Homo sapiens: one gene and its partners. The protein of the gene in region 3 interacts with the protein of the main gene of each other region in a pairwise test. Each region holds a gene or a part of one and is shown on either strand. Other genes may lie near its edges.

Region 1 (7,033 bases), on a different chromosome or scaffold from region 3:
CAGGGTGGCCTAACTGACCCTGAGCTGATTCGTTTTGGCTGCTAGAAGACCAGTGATTTCTTGATCATACATATGGTCACCCTAATGATAGGGACATAAACAGCACTGTTTTCCCAAGACCACTCCATTTTCCTGGTAACTTCTTATCCAGCATCCACAAGGCTATATGGGGAACATCCATATTCTTATAGGACTATGCTCCCCTGCCACAGAGATGGATATTTGACACAAACTAAGCCAGTCAGAATCCTTCTCCAAGATTCTTTTCTTAACTGAAACTAAAACAAGGCATCCATTCCTCTTAGATGGTAGAAGCCACAACATTCTAAGCCTCAGAAGCCGTTAAGGCCCATGTTCCCTACCCATGTGCAGCAAAGCAGCCCATAGTGAAAGAGCGAAACTAATAACCAGGGAGCAGCAGAGGGGAGAGCCCTGGTAGCATCTGATTCTCTTGCTCCCAAAGTCTGAAAGGCCCAGTGATACCAGAGTCCTTCACAGTTTATGTGTTAAACCCTTCCTTCAACCCAGAATCCTTCTAGCAAACTTCCCTTTGCACATGATAGTTTACATTGCGAGTCTGCAGCCATAAGAAGGCCAAGGGAAAGCACATGAGTGGACTCATCTCTGAGCAATGGGCGAGGGAGTGGTACTTTGCAGGGGACTACCTATGCTATGGTGAGGGATGATAAGCCTATAGAAATAGGAATTACTAAAGTTATTCTGGCAGTGGTCACACAAGCTGATGATGTCTGGAGATAGTAAAATAACATGAGTGTGGCTCTCTGGAGCCATAAAATAGAGACCAATCCTTCCTATGGACTTTGAAGCACTTTAATGTAGCTATCAGGTCACTTTGATTAAAAATACTTTAAATTCCTTTATTTTGATCACTGCCTTCTTGATATGTTCCTGTATTTTCTCTTTCAGTTTAGATCCGTGAATCTTTTTCAAAATTTCTTTAATTTTTAATTTTTACTGATATAAATAGCTGTACATATTTACGATGTACATGTGATATTTTGATACAAGCATACAATATGTAATGATCAAATCAGGATATTTGAGATATCCATCACCTTAAACATTATTTCTTTGTGAATCTTAAAGAGAAAGGGGCTGCTTGTGTATGTGTGCATACAGGCATATCCCTGTGCTCACACTACACTCAGACTAAGACCGCATCAGCATCTGTATTTTTTAAAACTATGTATAGGGCTTTTATCCTTTTAAAAAAAATCTCACTTTTTGATTTAATTCACCATTCACACTTTTTAAATATTGCTTTAATAAATGATTCTCTCATCTAAGCATCAATAAACATAATGAACATTGTCTATAAAACCTGCTTCTTTTTTCAGCTTTAATTATGGAATAAAAAGGGGGAGAAACATTTGATTAAGAGATAGTAGCTATAAACTCAGTCATCTAGAATATTGGTCTATATGACTCATAGCTTTTGGATGCAGGAAATATGGGTCAAACTAGAGACCTGACATGATTGTATCATGTCAGCTTGGACAACATGGCAAAACCCCATCTCTACTAAAAATACAAAAAATTAGCCAAGCATGGTTGTGCGTGCCTGTAATCCCAGCTACTCGGGAGGCTGAGGCTCGAGAATTGCTTGAACCCGGGAGGTGGAGGTTGCAGTGAGCCGAGATCACGCCACTGCACTCCAGCCTGGGTGACAGAGTGAGACTCTGTCTCAAAAAAAAAAAAAAAAAAAAAAGAAAGAAAGAAAAAAGTTACTGCATAGTTTATTTTAATGAAAGTCCATGTATGAACATATTTTAAAATGTAAATTCTTGTTGTTAATACATTAACATAAAGACATATACTACTGCCTCCGAGATTGGAATACCCTCAATATTCAACATCAGCTACTGTAACTAGGAACAGCTAACTCCTGACTAAAATGTTGAGGGTATCACTATTAGAGAACCCTACTGCTCACAGAGAAGTTTCACAAACATGATTGTATTTGATTGTATAAGAATCCAGTGAGACGGCCAGGGGCGCTGGCTCATGCCTGTAATCCCAGCACTTTGGGAGGCCAAGGTGGGTGGATCACCTGAGGTCAGGAGTTCGAGACCAACCTGACCAACATGGAGAAACCCTGTCTCTACCAAAAATACAAAATCAGCCGGGCGTGGTGGTGCGTGCCTGTAATTCCAGCTACTCGGGAGGCTGAGGCAGGAGAATCACTTGAACCTGGGAGGCCGAGGTTGCAGTGAACCGAGATTGTGCCATTGCACTTCAGCCTGGGCAACAAGAATGAGACTCCGTCTCAAAAAAAAAAAAAAAAAAAGGAACCAGTGAGACATTGCTAATAGTATTATACTGCTAGCTCTAGTTTTGAAACAGGTAAACTGAGACTGAAAAAGGTTATGAGACTTGTTTAGCTTACACAGCTAGTATGTGGCATGTCTTCAGACTACAAATCCCATGGTCCTTCTGCTAACAGCTGAAATAAACAGTTTGAAGATTCTAGAGAGTTTTAAATAAAACTGACATTTATAAAACTTCAAATTACCTTGCCTAATTGTTCTTGAGCTCTCTGTAGTTCTTGTATTCTCTGCCTCTCCTTTTCTTGCATTTCCAACTCTAGCTGCAATGCCAGCTGTTGCTGAATATTCAGAAATATGTCATATTACAGTTAGATTAATTGCAAGATAATTAAGTTTATACCCACCTTCATTTCAGAAACTTACAATACATGGTCACATCCAACTAATACTTTAGTTTCTACAAATGCTTCCTGAAGCATAAAATTTTTAAAAAAGATTTTAATCTTCCTTAATTGCAAATTATAGAAAGCACAATTTGTACAAAATTATTTTCCCTTTTCTTCTTAAAGTAACAAATGAGATTGCAACAATTTTCCAGATAAATTTCTTTAAGCATAGATGGGTCTTCAAATAGCCACACACTGGTTGTGGAAGAGTGGGTGAGAAACTCTTCAGAATATCATCTGATGGCTCATGCCTGTAATCCCAGCACTTTGAGAAGCCAAGGTAGGCAGATCATCTGAGGTCAGGAGTTTGAGACCAGACTGGCCAACATGGTGAAACCCTGTCTCTACTAAAAATACAAAAATTAGCTGGGCAGGGTGGCACATGCCTGTAATCTCAGCTACTCGGGAGGCTGAGGCAGGAGAATCGCTTGAACCTGGGAGGTGGAGGTTGCAGTGAGCCGAGATTGTGCCATTGCATTCCAGCCTAGGCAACAGAGTAAGACTCCCTCTCAAAAAAAAAAAAAAAAAAGAAAAGAAGAAAAAAGAATATCATCTGAAATCATTACTAACCAACAATATATTTGCTCCCAACTCAGCATATCTGTCACACTAGAATAGGGTTCAGCAATAAAGCCTGTGGGCCAAAGCCAACCCACCTCCTGTTTTTTATAGCTTACAAAGAAAGAATGGCTTTTACATTTTTAAATAGAAAAAATTTAAAAGAAATAATATTTCATGACATAGGAAAACGGTATGAAATGTAAATTTCAGCATCCTTAAAGCTTTATTGAAACACAGCCATGCTAATTTGTTTACGTATTGTCTACGAGCGCTTTTGTGCTGCCATAGCAGAGTGTAGTAGTTATAACAGAGACCACATGTGGTGCACTCACCACTTTGCCTGGCTGCCCAGCACACTACAAACCGCAGTAACATCATTGTAACAGCAGTGTTTGGAGTGCCATGGTATCACTATACTGTGACATTTAAAAAAATTATATCCATTATGTCAAAACAAGAAAGCCAGGGATGGGTGGCTTATTCCTGTAATCCCAGCTACTCAGGAGCGAGGCAGGAGGATTACTTGAAGCCAGGAGTTCAAGACCAGCCTGGGCAGCATAGCGAGACCCCCATCTCTAAACAAAATTTTGAGAAAAAAAAAAGAAAAATAGTGAATTTTGAATGTCGCACTTTTAAGGCACACTAGAGTGTGTATTATTTTGTCATCAAATTAAATGGCAAAACATGTTTCTTGCTATACAGTGCCACTGTACCAAAAGAATATAATAAATATCAACATTACCAGACTAAGCACTCATCACAATAGTCCCAGCTCACAGAGCACAAAGGCCAAAAAAAATTAGAAAATGTAAAACAGAATTGGCTGGGCATGGTGGCTCACACCTGTAATACCAGCACTTGGAAGGCCTGAGGACAGGAGTTCAAGACCAGCCTGGCCAACATGGTGAAACCCTGTCTCTACTAAAAATACCAAAAAAAATTACGCGTGGTAGCAGGTGCCTGTAGTCTCAGCCACTTGGGAGGCTGAGGCAAGAGAATTGCTTGAATCTGGGAGGTAGAGGTTGCAGTGAGCTGAGATCGCACCACTGCACTCCAGCCTGGGTGACAGAGCGAGACTCTGTCTTAAAAAAATAAAAATAACAAAAACAGAATTATCACAGCAGAATTTATTTACAAAAATTAAAAATGAAAATAAGTCTGCAACAAAAGTAGGGTTCCAAGAGGCTCATTTGTTATGAAAGCAAGGAAAGATATTTACCAATGATGAGTGAATTAAAACATGTTTTATTTCAGTGGCCAAAAAAAATGTGTCCAGGAAAAAACAAACTTGTCTAAGATTTTAGCCTTTTGGTGAGAGCAGCTGCTCAGAGTTGACACTGGGAGCAACATCAGTAGTCAACTAATAACAAGGCACATGATTCTGAGTGGCTTTCCTTGGCTCCTGATAAGCAGACAGATGTTCCCAACACTGCTCAGTTGTTGTTTATGGAAAGGGTCAATGCTGAGTTTGAAGTGACTGAAAAACCAAACCTCTATGAATAGTCTTTGATATGGTTTGGCTATGTCCCCATTCAATTCTCAACTTGAATTGTATCTCCCAGAATTCCCAAGTGTTGTGGGAGGGACCCAGAAGGAGTTAACTGAATCATGGGAGCTGGTCTTCCCTGTGCTATTCTCACGATAGTGAATAAGTCTCACGAGATCTGATGGGTTTATCAGGGGTTTCCACTTTTGCTTCTTCCTCATTTTCTCTTGCTGCCACCATGTAAGAAGTGCCTTTCGCCTCCCACCATGATTCTGAGACCTCCCCAGCAATGTGGAACTGTAAGTCCAATTAAACCTCTTTTTCTTCCCAGTGTTGGGTATGTCTTTATCAGCTGCTTGAAAATGGACTAATACAGTCTTCATGGAACAATTACAGACAAGAGCATTTTCAAAGTCGTGTAGAAACACTGATTCAATACAACCTGCAGTGAAATCTGCTAAGATGTGTCATAGCTGACAGTGATAAAAATACATGTGGAATAGAAAAAGGCTGAGCTGAACAAATTTACAAAGCTCATGAGAAAATAGTGTTTAAAGCCGGGAAGTGTTCATCATATTACTCAACAGCAGCTACTCTGTGAAAGTATTTGAATCTATTATGTGTTATTGATCCAGCAGTGTCAACAGTGACCTTCATTCACTCTTGTAAACTGGACCATCAATTCTGTGAATTTTTGTCAGAAACAGAAGCTGAATATATCCTGATGTCCTACCACACAGCAGTTCCATGGCTTAACAGTTATATTATGAATTTTTGAGCTCAGGGTCAAGATTTAACTTTTTATTGTGTAAATTGAAGATGCATATAATGTTTTGATATATATAGTGAATGCTTACCACAGGTAAGCAATTTCAATATCCATCATCTTAGACAGTTACTTTTGTATGGTAAGAGCACCTAAAATCTACTCTCTTAAAAATTTTCCAGTACACAATACAATCTTATTGGCTATCATCCTCATGCTGTACTTTAGATCTCTACATTTATTCATACTACACAATTGCAATTTTGTACATTTTGACCTACATCTCCTCATTCTTCTTCCAGGCCTACCCCCACTCCACCTCTTGGTAACCACTGTTCTATTCTCTCTTTTTATGTATTCAACATTTTTTTTTTAAGATTTCTACATAGACAGCATGTGGTATTTTTCTTTTGATGTCTGGTTTATTTCACTTAACATCATGTCCTTCAGTTTCATCCATGTCATCACAAATGGCAGGACCTACTTCTTTCTTAAAGCTGAATAATATTCTTTTATATATACATATATGTGATACATATATGTGAGATATATATATACAAGATATACATGAGAAATACATCTTACGTTTTTTCAAGACAGGGTCTTGCTCTGTCACCCAGGTGGGAGTGCAGTGGCACTGCCTCAACCTCCAGGGCTCAATTAATCCTCCCACCTCAGCTTCCTGAGTAGCTGGGACCACAGGTGCATGCCATCATCATCATGCCTGGATAATTTATACATTTTTTCTAGAGATGAGGTCTCCCTATGTTGCCCAAGCTGGTCTCGAACTCTGGACCTCAAGTGATCCTCAGGCCTCGGCCTCCCAAAGTACTGGGATTACAGGTGTGAGCCACTGTGATCAGCTCACAATTTCTTTATCCAGTCATCCACTGACAGACATTTATGTTGTTTCCAAATCTTGGCTATTGTAAATAATGCTGCAATGGACATGGGAGTGCAAGTAGTCTCTATAAGGTGCTGGTTTCATTTCCTTTGAATATATACTGAGAAGAGGAATTACTGGGTCATATGGTAGCTTTTAATTTTTTGAAATACACCCATACCATTTTGCATAATGGCTGCGCCAATTTGTATTCCCATCAACAGTGTAGAAGAGTTCACTTTTCTCCACACCCTCACCAATGTGTGTCTCTTCCCTTTCTTTTTTTTTTTTTTTTTTTTTTTTTTTCTTTTTTGAGACGGAGTCTCACTCTGTCACCCAGGCTGGAGTGCAGTGGCGCGATCTCAGCTCACTGCAAGCTCTACCTCCTGGGTTCACACCATTCTCCTGTCTCAGCCTCCTGAGTAGCTGGGACTACAGGCGCCCGCCACCACGCCCGGCTAATTTTTTGTATTTTTAGTAGAGACGGGGTTTCACCATGTTAGCTAGGATGGTCTCAATCTCCTGACTTTGTGATCTGCCCGCCTCAGCCTCCCGAAGTGCTGGGATTACAGGTGTGAGCCACTGCCCCCGGCCATGTCTCTT
Region 2 (5,182 bases), 1.8 Mb from region 3:
GCAGAGCAGCCCTGCTGACACCTTGACTTCAGACCCTGGCCTCCAGAACCGTGTAAGTTTCTGTCACTGTAAATCCCCCACTTTGTGGCAATTTGGACAGAAGGCATGGAAATGAATACAAATAGTAATGCATGCCAAGAAGAAAATAAAATGGGGATGTGAAACCGAGATTCGAGTTGGGATTACTTTAAATAGTGGGGTCTGGAAAGCCCCCCTGAGGAAGTACCATGTGTTACCCGAGGGCGTGAGAGATGGGTATTCTGAATGTGAGGGGGCAGCAAGTGCAAAGGGCCCAACCTGGGAATGACCTTGGTGTGTCTGAGGACTAGAAAGTCTCTGGGGCCAGACTATAGGCGGTATGAAAGGGACAGTGGTAAGGAGATGATGCTACTGCTGGTAGGGGCCAGATCCCATAGGCCTCCTCCTACAGCGCCTCATAGGCCCAGGGAAGAAGTCCAGATTTTCCAGGTGCAACCTTTTTCAGGAAGATTTTATAGTTAAAATGACCTAGAAAAGTAAAGGCATTAAGTACATACATTTATTAAATTAGTAAATATGAGTCTATTCTGAACATTCTAGTAATTGGATGAAAAAAAACCCCAGAACCTTTATAATGTTATTCATGGGATCCAACCCCACTGTTTTATGCTATATGAATAATGTCACAAATAGCATCTGTGAAGTCAAACACCACAGGACACAGTAGAAAATCCTTAGGGGGATCCTTTATTTCATTCACTTCCTCCTTACAAGGTGAAATTTCAATCTGTACAGGTTGTGTCTGCCAGTTCAGTCCACAGCTCAGAGTATCACCTTGTCCTCATTCCATGGTATAAGCTGTTGCGGGGGGACAGGTCTGCGGGTCGTGGATTCACTGGACTGGATGGGACATGATCCAGAACTCCGCTCCGTTTGGCTTCCCAAGGATCCCACCAACTCATTCTAATCAGTGATCACTGAGGAAATGCATTGTATTCCTATTCACTATTTCAAAGATCAGGCCTACCTCATTGGCATATTAAGAAAGTTTTCTCAAGTATATTTAGTGTTTATCATTTTACTATAGTTCTTCAAATGTCTGACATTCATCTTTTCCCTACCTCTAAATTCCTTTCTTTTTCACATTATCTTTCTTGATTGCTTTTTAATAGAAAAACAAACAAAGACATGGATTTACTGTGCATATTAGCAGATCCATACTGGAAAATGCATGGAGGTTTCATATACACCACTTACAGTAAGTAATAACTCAGAGTATAAAGTCGAAAAGAAAGAATCTGAAATATTAGACTTGTTCTGAAATAAGCTTACCTAGGATGATACCACTTTCGCTTAATCAGAATTTCCCCTTTCCAACTATTTAACAGTGGCAAATATAAAAAATCTGGTAGTTAAAATACACAGCAGTCACTTCATATTACTGCCTCCCTCAACCCACTCACCTTCTGAAGAACAGGGCTTTTTCAAGTTTTGTTCCCCTTTAAGTTTTAATAGAAAAAAAAAAGTTTTAAGTCATGTTGTACCAATATATCCCCAGAAAGAATTGCAATTTACCAAGGTTTTCACGTGTTTTGAGAGAAATCTTACTGAAAGACTAGTGATGTCCATTTTCCAGTAAATACTGAGCGAAAAACAATTTTTATACCCCAATCTGAGGTATAAACTTGCTTTTTGTGGGATCACAACTGCTGTAAATTAGACAATTGTAGCAACAATCCAAGACAATAACAGAATGCCTATGACAGTCTGCCATATTCTGGTGAGTGTCTATCAAAGCTCATCATGATTTTTTGTGAGATCTTCCCCGTAATTGGTAGCTTGGCTTCCGACAAACATGTTCCAGTTCTCCAATATTTCCTCTTTAGTTAGCTTCTCATCCTATAGAAGAGATCAAAGAGCACTGTCATGGAAGCTCTGGTAACTGTACTAGTTCTGTATGATGTTCATGTCATTTCACTGATGTACAACATTTAAAATACTATATTTAGTAATCCAGAAGCTACTGGGCACCTCCTTCATCTACCATGACTGCATTGCAAAACTCCAAATCGGAACAGCCTCTTGCTATAAAAACCGTGCTAACGTGTCAGGGAAGTCCCCGAGTAATTCAGAAGCTAGAATCCATTTGTGCCCACAAGCAGTGTTGGTCTTCCCAAAATAGGCCCTCAAGAATGCCACTTTCCTCTTACAGCCTCGCTGCCTAAACTGACTGTTGGCATAACCTGAGAATTTGGGGGCAATCAGCAAAGTGGGGAATAGGCAGGACATTTTTCTAAATGTATTGATTTGTTTATTTGGATGTTTATCAATAGATACCGAAGTACTAGGCATTAAAGCCAGAAACCTGAGCTTGCCTGAGGATGTCTGGGCTTTAATGGGATGGGCTTCCTTGTTCCTGACACCTCACAGATGTTTGATAAGTATTTGGTGACAATGAATGGATAAATAAGCTGATCCTAGGGCAACACGGGGTATACTTCTTAAATCGTGTCCTGCCCACAAAGTTCTGCAATCTTAGGAAATGTGACTTAATGTAAGTCTGTGGCTCACAGCTGACTTTCCAGGAAAGTTGGGGCCTAATAATTTTACTGTGGGTTATCACGGTATTAGCTCAAGTTTACAGGTCTCCACTGTAGGACAAGAAGGAAAAGTCAATAAAGACATGGCCACATGGGTCAATGCTATCGCCGAAAAAGCAAACAAAACCGATCTTATGTAAACTGTCTCCCTTCAATCAGTGATTCCAGAAGAATGGGAAATACCTTGTTTTTGTCTGATTCATATACCAGATGCCTGGCCTCAGCCTGTGCATGATCATAATCTTGAGGGAGGATCCAGTGGCGAATCTCATCTTTGTCTAACTTCCCGTCCTTGTTCAGATCCCGGAATTCGTTAAACTGCTCCCGTTCTGATAAAACCCAGTCTGGCTCAGGGCCATTCTCCTCATGGGAAAACATATCCGCTAGAAGGGAAGGTTATTGTTGGTTACAAAGGAAAGTGGGAAGGTAAACCTCCCCCACCCCCATAAAACAAACTTGACCTCCTGAGCTTTAGGAAAGGCGACAACCAATCCAGAGACCTAACTCAAACAGCTGGTAGGCAGCTTCTTGGGGATAATGATGCAGTAATTTATTCATGATGAAGGCCATGTGGTGGAGTAGAAAGAACTGAGTTTAGAAGCCAAAAGATAAATCCCGGCTTTTGACTTAGTTCAGTGACTGAGCCTGAAGTTTCCTTGTCTGTAAAATGGAGATGATAATTTATAAATCATGGGGCTATTATGATCAAATGTGCCATTTTGATGTAAAAGCCCTCTACAACCCAAACTGGCACTACATAAGCGAAAACTAATAATAATGACTAACATTGAACACTATGGTCCAGATACTGTATAAAGTGTTCTACACACAGTTTTCATTTGATTTTCACATAACAGCCTTACAAAGTGAGTGCTGTTATAATTCCCATTTTACAGATGAAAACAATGAGGTAAAGTCTTACCCAATGACCCACAGCTCATATGAGCTGGAGGCTGCACAGGAACATGGTCACTCTGCTTTCAACCCAGAGTCTTAGCCACTGTGTTTAGTACTATTGTTTATATCATTTCCAAAGGGCTTTCACTTGTCATTATATTTCATCCTTATAACAATTCTACAAGATGGGTCATTATCCCCATTGTACAAAATGGCAAGGAAAAGAAAAAGGAAACGTTTTTGCATTGTGTGTGTGTCAGTAGCTCTTGGAAAAGAGAGATACCCTGCAGGCAGTTTCTCTGTCACGGAAGCAGAGCTTGGAAATGTCAGGTGGTGAATGAAGCAGGTAGTAAGTGAAGGAAAAAAAAAGACAAGACCCTTGACTACAAGGTAGACCCCTAACTGACATGTCTACATTGTTTTTGAGAAAGAGTTGTAATATGTATTAGCTAATTCGAGCTTCATCGAATCCTGTAAAAATGGGCTCACTTTTTTTCCCCCATTTTACAGATGAGGAAGCTGAGGTTTGAAGCCATTACATGATTACCCCAGGGTCACACAGCTAATTGGTGAAGGTAGGGTTCCTAATTCCAGTGCTCTTCCTACTACCACCCCCCACCACACACTTTCCACTTGGTGCCGCTTGAAGAGAAGCCTCCCCGAGAAGTGAAATGACGAGTCAATACATTGGGTTTCCTCTGCCTGTGAGTCACTAGGTATTCGATTTTCAAGCGCAACGCCTCCACCTCCCTCTCCCTATTCACTGTAAAGAATGGGATGCTTCTTTTAGGCAAAGCCACTCAAAGAGTTCTGCCTCTGACTTTGCACCATTTCAATGCACAGTTCCGGAGGGCTGGGCAGAGCGCACACTTTCAATCAAAAGCACTACATTGTTTGTTTTGATCATGCAGTCTTTGCTGTCAGTCTCATTTCATCCCCAGTGCCACAGTAAGAGGTCTGCGCCTCCGAACGTGACCCTCGCACGTGGACCCAGCAAGAGGAAGGCTCAACTGCTTGCTCTGATGAGGGAGCTGTCAGCATATGTTATTCTATCAGGGTAGTGCCACCAAGATCACTTTAATTACTGTGGCGAGAGCTACCTTGTCTGTTACCAATGACACACAAGGAACAGTGTTTGGCTCATGATCAAACATAATTTCTAATGATTAGAGGAAAGTCTGCTCTTCATTGCTGAAGGCACTTGTTCTCGTGTCTGGGATGGCAAAGTAATACAACCACAAAACCAGAGACAGCAACTCAGGCTCTGAGTTTTACATTTAAAGGTAATTAATGGCTTTGATTAAAAATCTGTACAAAAATTATACATATTTCATTTCTCTTTTCATAGGTCAACACCTAAACCAAATGATTTTCCAGCTTTTACTTTATTGAGACTTGGGAAAAGAGCTGCCATGAGAAGGGAGCCTGCAGCTGGAGCCATGTGCCATAGCAGGTGGTGAGGATCAAATGGAATTGTCCTTGTTGCCTGCTCTAGTCCTTTCTAGCGGGGGGTTGGGCTGGGGGGGATTTGGGGCTACCAGGAAGGGCTCTAACCAGCAATGGTGGGTTCAGACCCAAATACATTAATTTGACACTATAGGACTCCCATCCAAAGGATGGGAAACGAGGGGCACAAAATGAGCATATTATTGGGCAATTGTGCACTCTGTAAAGCATTTATCTTTCTAAGAAGAATGCCTTTCTGC
Region 3 (7,033 bases):
GTTCTGTAATGAGCTAGGTTTGTTATAACAAAAACCCCCACTTCCTTCAACAAATTCTCAGGAGAAAAATAACATTCCTTTTTAAAAGTATGTTTATGCAAACAATGGGTTTAAAGGGTGGTTTGATCACTTTTTTAAAATAAACTTAAAACTGAGCTCTGAGTTTCAGAGACTGGGCAAGATCATAGTAACACAATAAGGGAGTGAATTGGATGAATTGGTGCCTCATGCCTTTTTGATCAGCAGAATTTAGTCACTAATCCTTTCAATAGAAGATTAATCTGAAGGTTTCATTTCCCTGAAGGAAGTTTGCTTCTTTCAAAGTTTGTGCTTTTTCACTGAGGTTAGAAACTGAAACATCCTAACTTCCTAATACAACAGATATCTACTGCTGGAGGCTCACCAGCTCCTTCCTTCACTTCACTATTTGCCCAACGAAGACAGATTCTGATCAAAGAGGGACAAGCCAGTTGAGAAATTGCTGCAGCACATTCTCCCCATGCCCTTAGAAATTGTTATGATTGTCCCAGAAATCCAGGCTTAAATGATACTCAGGTGTAATATTCAAGATAAGGGTCTGGGAGAATATAAAATATTAATTTGAGGGTGAATCAATCTAATTCAGTCATTGTCTTGGATTGTCCACTAAGTATAATGTGATATTATCATTAATTAAGTATAGAAAGACAGAGCCAATATCTTATACTTTACTTCTCCATCTCATCTCAGGCCATCACCGTAACTCTTTTACTTTACATTCCTCCTGTTGTCCAGTATCCTACTAGATGCTTCATTGTGTACTTCCTCAAATCCAGCTTGGGTCATTACAATCAGCATCTCCAAATTACAGATGGAGACTTGCCTAGCTATATGCAAATGAAACATTTGGACAGAAAGCCAGCCAGAATTCATGAACACAGATTCCCTTGCTGTGCTACTGGTGGCCCCCACTGCCTCCCCTGTGAGTAACAAGAGCAGTTCATTTGAATTCCAGGCAGTTTTGCACCAGCTAAGGGCAAATTCTCTTCTTTCACAGTCCTTTGGCAGCATCAACATCGGGACATCCAATGTGCGTCCAGGTTCCATGAGTGGTTTTGAAAGCCCAGAGTAAGACCATGGGCTGTGGAAAGAGAAGAGATGCAACTCTGAGTTGATACACATGAAAAAGCTAGGGTATTAGTTATTAGAAGGGGAAATGGCAGTCCTTATATACAATCTGTAGAAACAAAGGAAAGAAAGCAAGGCTTCAGTGAATGAAACCTCGTCTCTACTTAAAATAAAAAAAATTAGCTGGGCCTGGTGGTGGACACCTGTAATCCCAGCTATTCGGGAGGCTGAAGCGGGAGAATCACTTGAACCCAGGAGGTGGAGGTTGCAGTGAGCCGAGATTGTGCCATTGCACTCCAGCCTGGGCAATAAGAGTGAAACTGTGTCTCAAAACAAACAAACAAAAAACTATAGTTTTGAATTTTTTTGAGCTAGGGTCTCACTGTGTTGTCTAGTCTAGAGTGCAGTGCTCACTGCAGCCTCAACTTCCTGGGCTCAGATGATCCTCCCACCTCAGCCTCCTGGGTAGCTGGGACTACTGGCTCATGCCACCAAGCCTGGGCAATTTTTTATATGTTTTGTAGAAACAGGATTTTGCCACGTTGCCCAGGCTGGCCTCAAACTCCTGGGCTCAAGTGATCCTCCTGCCTTGGCCTCCCAAAGTGCTGGGATTACAAGCGTGAGCCACTGTACCTGGCCATTTTTTTTCCCCAGATAAACTAACTTGAGCTTCCCATTTTCTTGTTCCAAAGATGATAGTCTCATGAAGTGCTGTTACACTGTGTCTAGAAAGTGTGGGCATGGCTTTAGCACTCCTAAATATTCATAAGGAACACTTCATACTTCACATGACGGGATCACCTGAAGTTGTCAGAGTGTTATAGACATTGAGCCACCTAGCCTCCTGTCCCCAAGTATAATGGCTGCTGGGCTTTATGGGCACAGACCAATTAGGACACAAGGTCGCCTGGTAAGTTAGTACCAGTTAGAAATAGGAGACATGGATTTATACCTGCAGGGTACCCAGGAGGAAACTCCCTTTGGGAATTTTACAGATGGAAGAAGGTCTGTTTTTTGAAACATAATAGATTTTTAAGAAATAGATTTGTGTTTAAGTAAGGTTCCAGAGAACACTTGCTAATTATTATAAATCAACACGTATTAAGTGTTTGCTGTGTCCCATGTGGGGGACACTAGAATAATTCCTTCCACTCCTTTATTTTCTTTTAGCAAAGTTATTTATTTTTAAATGTAAAAATGTATTCAGATTCCAGTGAAGCAAAGTGAACAGGAGATGCTATGCATGGCGTATTAACGAAAGAACACGTGTCACAGCCTATTAACAATTGCTGGATTGAGATGTCAGTGTCTGTTTAATTGCCTTCCACTCTCTTTGAAATAATCATTGCCCCCACTTCATTTTCTTCCTCAAATCAACTTTATCCAAATCAATTTTACTCTTATAAAAATGTTCAGGTAAGGAAAGAAAGGCCTATTTGATGTCCTTCGTGTAACAATGGCCTTACGATATGGGATTTTCCTCCAAGTATTCCTTCAGTAGGAAGAATGGAAAATGGAATTTCTGTAAAAAAGTAAAATTAGGAGAATTCCTATTATGTCCTGATGGAATTTTGATTTTGGAAAGAGAAAGCAACCTAAAATAATTTTTGGTCTCATTCTTCTTTCTTCCTCACCTCTGCTTTTGTGCAGTTGGTTAGGGCTGGAGGGAGGATGGCACTGGGGATTTGCAGATTCTTAGCACTCTGGGTCATCTGCTGCCCTGGCAGTGAGCGACTCTTTTAGTCCAGAGTGCGTCCTTTGAGGTTAGGCAGTGCCCTTGGGTGTCCAGGTTATGGGAGGAGGAAAATGAGGGAGATCTGTGAAGATAGAGTCAGCGGGGAGAGTGGGAAAAAGCAGAAGGAGACCAGAGGTGCCCAGGTAGTGCTGGGCATGGGCAGGGGCACAGTGCCACCTGCAATTGCCTTTGATGCCTCTTGGTGCCCTGTGTTTACTTCTTAGACATCTAGGGAGTAAGGTCTGGCTCTTTCCCGTCTTAACCCAAGGTTGGTTGGGACTCTGCAGTCTGGCCAAGGGATGTGTTGTCCTGTCCCTTCTCCCTTAGGTCACTGAAAGGCAGTCAGGTGAGATGCCCTGTCTGGCCCAAAACGATCTCGGACCCTCGGTGCTGGTCTCACTCTGGTGAGGCTGTCCCTGATGCTTGGCCTTCTCTCCAGGGAACCAGTGGATGAGGTGCTGCAGATCCCCCCATCCCTGCTGACATGCGGCGGCTGCCAGCAGAACATTGGGGACCGCTACTTCCTGAAGGCCATCGACCAGTACTGGCACGAGGACTGCCTGAGCTGCGACCTCTGTGGCTGCCGGCTGGGTGAGGTGGGGCGGCGCCTCTACTACAAACTGGGCCGGAAGCTCTGCCGGAGAGACTATCTCAGGTACCCTCCCCGGCACTCCACTGGGCCCTCGGAAGGGAGGCTGGGTGGTCCATGGACATCTGCAGTCGGTGTGTGTTGCCCCTTACCCTGCTCCAGGCTCGGACACCACCTATAGAAAGAGGTCAGACTGCAGAGGCTGAGTCTCAGCTCCTGTGCTGAGAAGCAGAGGGCATTTCTTCCTGTTTGAGAAGCATGTTCTCAGGGTTACGTTCCTATGTGGTAAAATACTAATATCTTTAAAGGCAAGAGAATTGTATACCCAAAATTCAGAAAAGTGCTTCCCTTGGGGAGCGGGAGAAGCTAGGGGATGGGATTGAGGAGGAGTACACACGGAGGATCAGAGGGACTGGGAGTGTTTCTAAGTTTGGAGGTGGGCTCTGAGGACCTCATTTGAATGCTTCAGAACATATATGTATGTTATAAATTTTTTTTGTATGACTCCAGTATTATATGATGAGAAATTTAAAAATAGAAAGCATATGGAGCTCCAAGCATTGACTCATAGCAGGAAGGCAGTCTTCGAAGAGCAGAAAGGCAAAGGCCCTGTAGGCAGTTGGAGGTTTGAGTCCCAATACCATTGCTTCCCAGCTTGGTGGCCTTGGGCAAGTTATTTAACCTTCCTAAGCCTCGATTTCCTTATCTGTAAAATGGGGATGATAATAGCACCTACCTCTAAGGATGTGGGGAGGATTTGATGGAATAATGCAGATAAACTACTTGGCTTGGTATGGATCAAATAGATGTTAGCTGCTCTTACATAATCATTATTTTCCAATCTAATGAGCAAAGGGATGGAAGAATGGAAGAGTAAAATAGGAACTCGACAACACCAAGTAAGACAGGAGCTGAGGACATCTCCCATGCTCTGGGCCATCCTATTGGCCATCCGAATTTTCCAGCACTGTGTGAAAGCCTTTGCCTAGAATGTACTAGTGTTTCTAGTTTCCGATGAGCTGCTGTGGAGGTAACTGTCTCTGTGCCCTCTACTGTCAGATCTGCTCAACTGTGTAGCTGTCAGTATTTCTCCGTTTTCCTGGAGCAGAGGGTCTGTGAAGCATGCTTCCCTGATACACCAGGACCATCCAACCCATGGAAGCTTGTTGAGACCTCAGCGCCCTTGGCTGCTGGGCCAGCTTTTCCTCCCAAACCTGCCCTCAGAGCATTTTACATTATAGAAACAAAACAAAACCAAAAAAACTGCAGGCAGTTTCACAGTGAAGGAAGCTTTACCTAAAGACTGTTAGAAGAAGCTTTTTGTCCTTGAATTCCCAGATAAAGTTCTTGCAGTCCTTGCAGATATGGTGGTTCCGAGAAAATAAGTAGGATTTTGCAATGATCATGCTTATAATTTTGGTCAGTTTTCTTTTTTTTAAGTCACAGAAAATAGAACTTGGATAAATACAGACCTGGTTTTGCTCACTCCCAGTTTGCCAAGTCAGTGAGAGGGCAGACGGGTAAATGATTCCCATCGGACCCTTGACTCCATCCCTGTCAAATCATTTGAATCTTATTAACTGAAGTGCAGATAGAGTAAGGTCAGAAGAGCCCCAGCTTCTCCCTATCTCTACCGTTTTATATAACATTCAGGAATAAAACCAGTGCTGCCTGGGCTTGTTAATCCTTTCCATTTTCAAAAAGGAGAGGAAAAAAAAAACAGTCTGGGAGAACCCAATGTTAATTAACTTGTGTCTTGGTGACATGAAATAATTCTTCTCCCTGCCACATTCCTAGGCAACATGTTAATTAACTCTGCATTAGTGCAGGCATTTCCAGCCATTCTTTAATATTTATATTATTGTTATTAAAATGGGCAGCAGAGAGCTTAAGATGGGACATCTCTTGACAGAGGAGAAAAATTGTCTTTTGCGTCAGGGATGGTCCTTTAGCCAAGGTCTTGTTTACTGGCATTCTTAGTATATCTGGCAGGATCTTTTAACAAGGCAAGTTGGAGGAGTAACTGAACGGGCCCTCTAATGTGTTTGAGTTCTTCACCCCTAGGATAACTTGTCCCCGTGAGGATTTCCAATGGCTGAGTTGCCTGTTACAGTTCTTTTCCGACATTTAGCTTCAAACATTCATGAGACCCCCATGCAGAACCTCAACTCTGCTGCTGTGTTGTATTGTTGGGAACCCAAGAGCAGCTGTTCATGTCTGTGCTGAGCCAGATCTCCTTGGATCCCTTTTCACTAATTCTTGTGTGCTGGGAGTGGTGGGGTGGCGGTGATGGCAGTGGTTTTGCTTTTAACAGCCAGCACCTGAATCTGTTAGAGCCAGAAGTATGCCTGCCCCAACTAGACCCCCAACGGACCTTAACCAGTGACAGACATGGTGGGAGTACCAAGCCCCGCAGCCTTGCCTGGAGCCAGGCATAACTTATATTCCAGGGTCCCTCCCCTCTGAGGGACTTTGCCTGAGGATACAACTTGGCTTGGCTTCCTCCCCTTCCCTCCAGCCTCCCCTGCTGCCTTCCAGGTTTTTCCTGAGAATGCCTCATTCATAAATCACTGGCACATCAATCCTTGCCTCAGGGGCTGCTTCTGGGATATCCAGCCTAAGATACCAATTCTTGGTGCCAGAGGTTAATGCTCAAGTTAGGTGTCAAGTCCCGGCTTATTTTTTACTAATATTAGAATCTCCGAATCCCAGAGCTGGAAGGGGCTACAGAGACCTTCTTTTTCAGTTCCCTTGCTTTATGGCTTAAGTCACAGAAGCCTGTACAGGGGACTCCATTTGCTCAGGTCACCTGGCAAGTTAGAGGTCATGCTGGGACCTGAACTTGTCTCCCACATATTCGTCCTTTGTCCTTCCCTTCATAGCTGCCTGATGTGGGTTGTAATTTACCCCCTGACTTCCCTTTAATAAGCTCCCTCCTTCCTTAAGGATCGCACACCCCAGGCAGTTGGATTCATTCCATGCACACTGTTTTCTCAGTCGTTCATCCTTGCTCAGGCCCAAACTTAACTTACAGAGCAGTCAGGAAACCAGAACTGTCTTTCCACTCTGTGACCTCCAATGTGGCGGTTACCTGCAGCTCCACCATCTGCTACGTTGGGATAAAATGTTCTCCCCCCAGTAATGAGTTTGCTCCCAGGCGGTGCTTTGAAAACACTCAGAGATCTTCAAATGGAAAGCAGGATTCAGAGGCAAATTAGCTGGCCCTGGCCCGAACAATGAGCTCTCCACTCACAGACCACCTCTTGTCAATTCCATTAATCTCGCCCAAATATTGCAAAATGTGTCAACTGCCCTTAGGTCCCCTACAACCTCTCAGAATGTACCCACTGATTCTCTGATATCCTGAAATCAACCAGAACTTCCAATAAGAGCAAGCATTCACCTAAAACTGTCCTAAAGGTTTTATGTAGAAACCACCTGCTAACATGCTATGTTTTCAGCCACGAGTGAAAATTACTTCCTGCAGCAAGACTGGCACAGCTGGGAATACACCCAAGATGTGTTAAAACATAACCAGCGTTGGCTTAGCCCTTGACCATGGGTGCCCTGACATGCTTCGTTTGGTTGTTTTAACAGCTGAG

The links. Proteins that work in one complex are often made in the same cells at the same time.
Region 1: the proteins of LMO2 (region 3) and DYDC1 interact in binary tests that used the Homo sapiens proteins (3 or more experiments, as listed by UniProt).
Region 2: the proteins of LMO2 (region 3) and RCN1 interact in binary tests that used the Homo sapiens proteins (3 or more experiments, as listed by UniProt).

The regions. Positions count from the first base shown.
Region 1 is NC_000010.11:80,339,736-80,346,768, forward strand, and holds part of DYDC1 (DPY30 domain-containing protein 1), read right to left. Parts: intron 5,081-7,033; coding exon of another isoform or gene 5,048-5,080; exon of another isoform or gene 5,010-5,047; intron 2,627-5,009; coding exon 2,534-2,626; intron 1-2,533. Other genes in the region: DYDC2 (DPY30 domain-containing protein 2), read left to right, coding at 5,048-5,080. UniProt on the Homo sapiens protein: Functions as part of axonemal radial spoke complexes that play an important part in the motility of sperm and cilia. Plays a crucial role during acrosome biogenesis.
Region 2 is NC_000011.10:32,101,061-32,106,242, reverse strand, and holds the end of RCN1 (reticulocalbin-1 precursor), read right to left. Parts: intron 2,963-5,182; coding exon 2,763-2,962; intron 1,879-2,762; coding exon 1,771-1,878; 3' UTR 521-1,770; downstream 1-520. UniProt on the Homo sapiens protein: May regulate calcium-dependent activities in the endoplasmic reticulum lumen or post-ER compartment.
Region 3 is NC_000011.10:33,861,066-33,868,098, reverse strand, and holds part of LMO2 (rhombotin-2), read left to right. Parts: intron 1-3,281; coding exon 3,282-3,497; intron 3,498-7,033. UniProt on the Homo sapiens protein: Acts with TAL1/SCL to regulate red blood cell development. Also acts with LDB1 to maintain erythroid precursors in an immature state.